Linked DNA regions of Homo sapiens. The protein of the gene in region 2 purifies or fractionates together with the protein of the main gene of each other region. This does not show direct contact. Each region holds a gene or a part of one and is shown on either strand. Other genes may lie near its edges.

Region 1 (3,664 bases), on a different chromosome or scaffold from region 2:
CATCATATAAAATTACAACTTAAAGTATATGAACTGGACATATATTTGGAAACTCTTTTTGACTGCTGAACTATTTCAGCATTTTAATTGTCAGCAATAAATTCGCTATGTTTGAACTATTTGATACTTTCCTTAAATTTCCCAGTCTTGTGCTTTTGAATAAATAAACTCCATAAAGACAGGGTTCTGGTCATATTTTCCCTACTTGACAGGTAGATATTAGGAATATATAAACATTTGATAAATGTTTCGTATGGATGAATTAACTATCCCATTTTCAATTTTTAGTCTAAATATTTAGACTGTATTTTTTCATATATTGAGTTCTACCTAGCTTTGAGGGATCAGGTGCAACATCTGACTTAGGTATACTGCTCCTGGAACCCAACTACTGAACTTACATCTACAGCCATATCCTTTTTTGATGGGCCTCATAATTAATAATGCTCTATGAAAAACACCTGATTAAAGGTTTCTGCAGTGTTCTTATTTATAGGATGAAGTATTCTAAACAGTAAGGATTAAATCATCAATTAATTTGGGGAAATTCTGGTTTCTGTCTTCATACATACAGACACATGCATCACAGTAATACCAACAACTTTAACTTTTGTATGCACACTGCTTCTACTTTTCCACACAGCAACTGTGATGTGGGCATGACACAGCTACCTTTGTATTATAGATAAGTAAGTGGAGACTCAAATTGAGTAACTGAACAAATAGGACTTGAAGTTGGATATCATTTTAAAATCTTGCTGCCTAACGAAGGGCAATTGATTTTTGTTAATTCTCTACCTGATGCTCTTGTAATTTAATTAGGACATTCAGCTTTCTACCGCTAATGCTACCTAATTCAGTTAAGGGAAGAATGCTGCTTAGTATTTTGTAATTTCTATTAGAACAGCTGCAGTTTTGTAAGGGGTTCTTTTGCCAAAAATCCATTAGAATGTGAGTGTTAATAATATTTCTTAGAAGTAGTTTAGAAAAGTTTTTTGTTTTGTTGTTTCTTGGATCTCTTATGAAGAGTAGGTTTTAAATTTGCCTCCTTGATCCTTCATCATAGCTACATTTTGCATTTGTGCCAATGTTTGTGATGGTTCCAAAGGAATTACTTATTTTTGTCAAAAACAGGATGAGGTACTAAATCATAATGAGAATACTCAACCTATTTCATTTCCATTGTGATTTCTTGTTTGCATTTTAAAACTTTATTTTCTGTAGTAAGTTCAGGCAAGACTTGTTTGGGCAGTAATCAGAAGAATAGCAGCAAGATACAGGGGGACTCTAGAATTTTGCTAGGGGTAATGGTGGGGGAAAATATATTTTCCCCTTCCAGTTAAAGCTTCAGTATTATTTATAAATAATCTCCTCCCAAAACAGCATGAGTGGGGATGTTTTCGAGACTTTTCTGAACACATTTTAGGCATTTTTCTAACTGTTTAACTGTTTTTCTAACTGTTTAAAATAGAAGTACAATGACTCTTATGAGATTGTCTTGAACCATTATAGAACAGGGTAATTGTGCTATTCTTCAGAAGTGGAAGAAATTATTTCTGTGGTATGATATTTTGTAATATGCCTTTGTTGTCAGTAATTATCTCTAGAATTTTGTAGTTAATTATAGAGTAATGTTTCAAAGAATGCATATGTCTTGATTGGCCTAGAACAGTCAATTGACATTTTAATATGCTTTTATACAACTGCACATTAAATTAGGTCATAATTATTTTTAAACAGGATGGTGAAGTGGATGCTGAAGAACTTCAGAGATGTTTGACACAGTCTGGAATTAATGGAACTTACTCTCGTGAGATCTTTTTTCCCCTTTTGTTGAAATTATAATAGGAAGTTTATTTTCTTACTTTTTTTGTCCCTGTAATTAAAATGTTTAAAAAATTATCACAGTTATACATGCACATAGTTTAAGGAGTCAAATAACTGTAAAACTCGTTATGAAAATAACTGTTCATTGTGTATTCCTGTCTCCTTAACATTAACTGCTCATAGAGGACACTTCTTTTGACTTTTAAAAATCTGATTCTTTTGAAATTTGCTTCCAGATTTCAAGATAGAATATTTTTTTCACGATTGATTTTTGGATTTTATGATTATCTATTGATATCCTGCTATGAAAGATGAGGATTTCACTTTATTTTAACCTTAAACTCTCCCCTGTCTCTGCACTCCACAGAGGAACATTTCCCATCCTCCTGTCCTTCCAATGTAGTTATAATATATAGTAACTTTTGTTAGGTATGTTAGTCTTTACCTTATTTTTACTATCTGAATGCTGCTTATAGCTGTATCTTATGATAATGTATGATTACTTTTCCTTTTTATATAATGTTTTGCTTTTCTTGAAATCACTAGTTGTCAGGTATTATCCTAGAACTCTGGGATATGCAGTTTTTTATGTGTAGCTGTCATACTGGGATTCTTTCACCATCATTCTGAAGCTGGTTTCCCCGTTTCTCTTGAGTTAGATCTCCTTTTTACTCCATCTCTTGTTGTCCTCTTTTAAAAAATTCATTATCTTATTTTAGTGAAATGTATAGTTAAGCAGCTTCTTAATATAAAAAAAAAATACGGCCAGGCGCCGTGGCTCATGCCTGCAATCCCAGCACTTTGGGAGGCTGAGGTGGGCGAATCATGAGGTTAAGAGATCGAGAGCACCCTGGCCACCATGGTGAAACCCCGTCTCTACTAAAAATACAAAAATTAACTGGGCGTGGTGGCACGCACCTGTAGTCCCAGCTACTCGGGAGACTGAGGCAGGAGAATTACTTGAACCCAGGAGGCAGAGGTTCCAGTGAGCTGAGATTGGGCCACTGCACTCCAGCCTGGTGACAGAGTGAGACATCATCTCAAAAACAAACAAAAGAATATATGGGAGATAAATTTTTGAGAGCTTATGTATCTAAAAATGCTTTCATTCTACCTTCAGAATTGATTGGCCAGGTATAGAATTCTAGGTTACAAATGATTCTCAAGTAGAATTTTAAAGGTATTGCTCCATTGTTTCTAGCGTCCCTTGTTGCATTATCTTTCTCTTTCCTGCCTGGATGTGATGTGATTTGTTATTCCTCTCTGGAAACTTGTGAGATCTTTGTCTTTAGTATTCTGCGATTTGATGGTAAAGTACCTAGTTGTGTTGTGTGGGGAACTCAGATGGTATTCTCAGCCTGGAAACTCCTTTGCTTTAGATGTAGGACGTTTTCTTCAATGATATTTTCTGTTTCTTGGAATGCTTTTTGTTTTCACTGGGTTTTCTACTTTTATCATCTTTTTCCTCCTATCATTTTTTTTTGCTGAACTTTTTGGGAATTTTCCTCAACTTTATTTCCTAAACCTTCTATTGAGTCTTTCATTTCTGCTTTTCATTAATATCCAAGAGCTTCTGTTCTATTTTCATGAATGTGATATTGTCCCTTATCTCTCTGAGACTATTAATATATTTTTAAAGTTTTTTCTTCCTATATAACCTTTGTTTTTTCCAGATTGTTTTTTCTCCTCATTTTGCTTGTTTTGGTTGTCTTTCATGTTAGGTGCTTTTCTCAGTTATCTGATGATACTGCTTTGCTCTTATTTTAACTAAATTGCTGATTAGAAGCCCTGAGATCATGGTTAGGCATTGATTGTGGGCTTCACTGTATGGTGATTT
Region 2 (2,691 bases):
AGCCAGTGCACTATGATTCCATTAAAATAATTAAGGAAAATATGTCTATACCTGTAATTGCTAATGGAGACATCAGAAGCTTAAAGGAAGCAGAAAATGTGTGGCGGATTACTGGGACAGATGGTAAGAAATAAGTACTTGGGTTCTTTTAATTGGGGGGGGAAGAAATGAGAGTGGGGAAGTAATGTTAATTTGATTTTCATTTGTTTTGTTTAACATTAAGCCATATTTTCCCATTGTACTGTTTTAAGCTAAGCGATTTATTAAAATGATGTTAAGTTTTCTACCTAGAAAAACATGGATTATCTTAACTGGGATAAATTAATTCAGTTACTTTTCTGACACCATCATATCTAGTGACCAGTGAAGAATTTTCCAGATAGCCTACTAGTAAAATAAAGCACCTAGAAATAAGAGTAAGTGAACTCGAGAATGATAAGAGCTAAAGGAATCCCAGAACTGCTATGCAGTTTCATTATTCCCTTAAATTATTGGCATGCCAAGCCCTATAATTGCTAGATGGGAGAATATAGATAAACTGAACTTTAAGCAGCCCAATTTATGACAATCCAGATTTACCCTAAAGAAAAACTAAAGACTAATGGTTTAATGTAGAAATCTTTAAAAAATAAAGATTTCTGTACGTACATTTAAACTTTCCTGGTTTACAAAAGGTACCAAAATTAATTCTTTTGTAATCGGATTAAACATATTAATGCAATAAAGACATTACAAAACCTTGTGATAATACTTTTTAAAAATATACTGTTTGCTTCATTGAGCTTGAACTAATAACCAGGGGTTCTTAATGTATGGACAAATATGGTGTGCTTTAATTTGTAGGTGTGATGGTTGCAAGAGGACTCTTAGCAAACCCGGCCATGTTTGCTGGATATGAGGAAACCCCACTGAAATGCATCTGGGACTGGGTTGACATTGCTCTTGAACTCGGGACTCCTTACATGTGTTTCCATCAACATTTAATGTACATGATGGAAAAGATAACTTCAAGGCAGGAAAAAAGGGTATTTAATGCTCTGTCAAGCACATCAGCAATCATAGATTACCTTACAGACCATTATGGCATTTGACTAGACTTCCCAAATAATTTTAATATATACTTTTAGACCCACAGTGAAACCACAGAAGGTCATATTTTGTACCTTAAACCAGTAGCTCTCAAATTTTAGTATAAAAACAATTCCTGGGAGCGTTTTTTAAAAATCAGTTGTAGACACCACCCTCAGAGATTCTGATTAGGTAGATCTGGAGTAGACCCAGAAATACACAGTTTAAAGAAAACTCCCAGTGGTTCAAACATCCTGATCATCCTAGGCAAACATTGACAAATACTGCTCTGAATCCTGTTCTATAGATATTGGGGGGATGGGTAGAGTGGGAATTTTTTCCTAATCATGTTTTTAACATTTTAAAATAAAATTTAATACTAAGAAATTATGGCTTATAGTATCTATAAATTAACAAGAAGTATGCAGGTGCAAAAAAGTGGTGGAACAAATACCAACATCCATCCAAAATGAAAAAGAACAGGAAATTCTGAATAGAATTGCACTCAGAACTTATATTAAAAATTCCATTTGGTTAATGACATTAAATTTGGTACATTTCAAAACTTCTAGGTCCTCCAAAGATTGAAAGCTTAATAATCTCCTACCTAAAAAGATAAAATTAATTGCAATCTACCATATCTTAAGTATAGGAAATTTGGTGTCCAACCTGGAGATGATTATATATTTGAAATATTTCCTAGAGAATAGTAACCAGGTTTTGTTTTTAACTTTAAAACCTAATTACTTTTGTGCCTCTCAGCCGTTGATTGTAACTTTAAAGTCCCATGGTTTTGGAGTGTTATTAATAGATTTTGTTATCGGTGGGCATGCACTGCAAGAATTAAGTATCTCAGACTGAAATAAAACCGTTCATAATTAAAGTATTATTTTGTTTTGCCAACATGAAAACTGTTATAAGGAAACAATTATGTAAAACTGTTTAATTCACGTTTGGGAATATTGAATGAATCCATTTTAACATAAGCACTGTGGTGCCATCTTTTTTCTCAGTACATTCTGTTTTCACTTTTCAGTTAATGCATTTTTTTTTTTAAAGATAACTCGCTGTTTCATTTTCTATGAATACTGTACAAAATAGGGAGGTATGGTCAGAACTCTGAATTGAATTACCCTAGTGTTGTGAGCACAGCATCATCACTAGAGTAATGTGCTCGGTGTTTGGAAGGAACCAGCGTGGATGGGCAAGAAGTTCTAACACTTTTGATTAAAAGTAACTTCCTGGCCGGGCGCGGTGGCTCACGCCTGTGATCCCAGCACTTTGGGAGGCCAAGACGGGCAGATCACGAGGTCAGGAGATCAAGACCATCCTGGATAACACGGTGAAACCCCGTCTCTACTAAAAATACAAAAATTAGCTGGGCGTGGTGGCGGGCGCCTATAGTCCCAGCTACTCAGGAGGCTGAGGCAGGAGAATGGTGTGAACCTGGGAGGTGGAGCTTGCAGTGAGCTGAGATTGCGCCACTGCACTCCTGCCTGGGCAACAGAGCAAGACTCTGTCTCAAAAAAAAAAAAAAAAAAGTAACTTCCTGGCTAGGCGCGGTGGCTCACACCTGTAATCCCAACAGTTTGGGAGGCCAAGGCAGGCAGATCACTTGAGTCC
Region 3 (2,525 bases), on a different chromosome or scaffold from region 2:
GAGGGTGGTGGCTGTGGCCCTGAGTTGGGTTGTGCCTGAGGACATGGCGAGTGGTGCTGAAATGGAAACACAAAAGTGACAACCCTTGTCCAGGCCCCAAATCTGAGGAGACACCTCCTCAGTTCCTGCCACCCTAGGTCATCCTGGAAGGCAAAAGTTTTGTCCTCTCCCCCCTGGTGTGGGGCAGCCAGTATGACAGGTCCTGGCTTAGGAAGGGAGACGGGGTGAGTCTTGTCCTCAGGGAGCTCACACAGCTGCTGAGGGAAGCAAGGTGACAACACACCCCACCCTCCTGCTGTGGGGGAAGAGGAGGTGATGCCCCAGAGTTGGGGAGGGGAGGATCTCTGGGCTGGCGTTGGAAGTGGTTTTGATGGATTTCCAGAACCAGACCAGGGAAAGGAAAGGAAAAGTGATTCTCAAAAGAGGAAACACTAAGGAAAAAGGTCTGAAAACAGTGACACCTGCAGTTTCAAGGCTGGTGAGAAATCCACAGGGCGGGGAGCAGGAGCAAGTGCAGTGAGGAATAGGAGTCAGGAGGGAGAAGGAAGAGGACGGTGGGAGAGCACAGGCATGCCAGTAACCCCAGGAGGAGCGCCCCACGAGGAGGTCATTTTAACGTGAATGTGTATACTGGGATGATTGAAGCTGAACTCAAGAACTAACTTCTTGAGGTCACCATTTCTGATCACATTTGAGATCCCCGTTTCTTTTTCTCCTGTTACCTCCTGCACTTGGCTCCAGGGTGCTGTCCATGCCCATCAAGAAGTCCTCAAGCCATCCTATACAGTCTCCCATTGAGAAGTAATGGAAGGACATGGCCACAACCTTGTCATTCTCCCACTTTTCTTTCATCTTTCTGGCTCCAGGATGAACCGTTGTCCACATTCTCTTCTCTGAGTCAAAGAGGAGGAAGATCTGCCCATCGAAACTGAACTGCCAAGATCCACTGCTGTGTCCTTCAGCTTTCTGCTCACAAGACATCCTTGCCTGCAGGGTGAGGGGTTCTGCCCCCATCAGAGAGAGATCAGCTCTGATCTTGACAAATTTTGCACCCCCATCCTGTTCCCCTTACAATTTGCTGGCCTTACTCTCTCTGCTACATCTTGGCCTTGCCTCTAGACTCTTGAGGGGTATGATGACCTTCCCATTTGTATTTTTTTTTTTTTTTTGAGAAAGGGTCTCGCTCTGTCACCCAGGCTGGATGGAGTGCAGTGGCGCGATCTCGGCTCACTCAGCCTCCTAAGTAGCTGGGACTACAGGCGCCCGCCACCATACCCGGCTAATTTTTTGTATTTTTAGTACAGACAGGGTTTCACTGTGTTAACCAGGATGGTCTCGATCTCTTAACCTCGTGATCCGCCTGCCTCAGCCTCCCAAAATGCTGGGATTACAGGCTTGAGCCACTGCACCTGGCTTTTTTTTTTTTTTTTTTTTTGAGACAAAGTCTCACTCTGTTGCCCAGGCTGGAGTGCAGTGGCACCACCTCGGCTCACTGCAGCGTCTGCCTGCCGGGTTCAAGGGATCCTCCTGCCTCAGCCTCCCAAGTTGCTGGGATTACAGGCATGCGCCACCATGCCTGGCTAATTTTTGCATTTTTGGTAGAGACAGTGTTTCACCATGTTGGTCAGGCTGGTCTCGAATTCCTGACCTTGTGATCGGCCCACCTCTACCTCACAAAGTGCTGGGACTACAGGCGTGAGCCACCGTGCCCAGGACCCTTTTGTATTTTTACATGAAAACTATAAATGCCTCTAACCTACCACTGTATCTGTTCCCTGCTGTCCTGGGCCATCTGAAACTTACCCTTGGGTGTGTAATTCTCCAGCTGAATGTCACGCAGTTGCTCTGTAAGTATGTCCACCACCTCTCTCAGTACTGGGTTCTGTGCTTTCCAGGCCGTTGTGACATTTAGTTTCTTCCCCAGGGGACTGACAGGTGTGACTGTCTTGTTGCCACAGTCATAGTGAAGAAAAGTCTTTTCATCCACCTGGCCTTGAACCGCACACCACCGTGGTCCAGGTCTGAACTTAGGGATGACGGTGATGTCATAGCAAAGAGAGTGAGGGTCTGTGGAGAAAGGCAGGTGAGGGGTGGGTGGGGAGGAAAAGACCCCTAGTTAGCCCCCCTCCACGCTGTGTCAATAAGAGGATGCCTCTGGCAGGCTGGGCTGGCCCAGGAAGGAGTGCCCCCTCCAGAACTGTGGTGTCTACAAGTTTAAGGCGAGTGCTCGCCCCTTGCATGAGGACAAGGAGGAGGAGGAGGAGGAAGTCTCTGTCTGCTGAGAAACCACATGTCCCCAGACATGTCCCACTGCCCCTCTGCCCACATCAGTCAACACGTGACCTTGCTAGAAAGGTGCCAGGCCTCTCTAGCAAGAGAGGAGGAAGGGCCTGGATGGCAGAGGATCTTCAGCAGTAGCCCACGTGGACTGCGGGAGGTGGGAGAGGGTGTGGGTCCACCCCTGTGGATGCTGGTGCTGGTTGAACAGAGTGAGGATGGAACCCCGTTGGATAAAGAAGAGTTAA

What was found.
Region 1: the proteins of DUS4L (region 2) and GCA purify together in Homo sapiens (affinity purification with mass spectrometry; 2 studies listed by BioGRID and IntAct, with this or other methods). This does not show direct contact.
Region 3: the proteins of DUS4L (region 2) and ULBP2 purify together in Homo sapiens (affinity purification with mass spectrometry; one large-scale study listed by BioGRID and IntAct). This does not show direct contact.

Annotation. Positions count from the first base shown.
Region 1 is NC_000002.12:162,350,598-162,354,261, forward strand, and holds part of GCA (grancalcin), read left to right. Parts: intron 1-1,740; coding exon 1,741-1,810; intron 1,811-2,814; exon of another isoform or gene 2,815-3,136; intron 3,137-3,664. UniProt on the Homo sapiens protein: Calcium-binding protein that may play a role in the adhesion of neutrophils to fibronectin. May play a role in the formation of focal adhesions.
Region 2 is NC_000007.14:107,576,470-107,579,160, forward strand, and holds the end of DUS4L (tRNA-dihydrouridine(20a/20b) synthase [NAD(P)+]-like), read left to right. Parts: coding exon 1-123; intron 124-843; coding exon 844-1,091; 3' UTR 1,092-2,054; downstream 2,055-2,691. Other genes in the region: DUS4L-BCAP29 protein, read left to right, coding at 1-123. UniProt on the Homo sapiens protein: Catalyzes the synthesis of dihydrouridine, a modified base found in the D-loop of most tRNAs.
Region 3 is NC_000006.12:149,944,851-149,947,375, reverse strand, and holds part of ULBP2 (UL16-binding protein 2 preproprotein), read right to left. Parts: intron 2,068-2,525; coding exon 1,804-2,067; intron 1,005-1,803; coding exon 723-1,004; intron 57-722; coding exon 1-56. UniProt on the Homo sapiens protein: Binds and activates the KLRK1/NKG2D receptor, mediating natural killer cell cytotoxicity.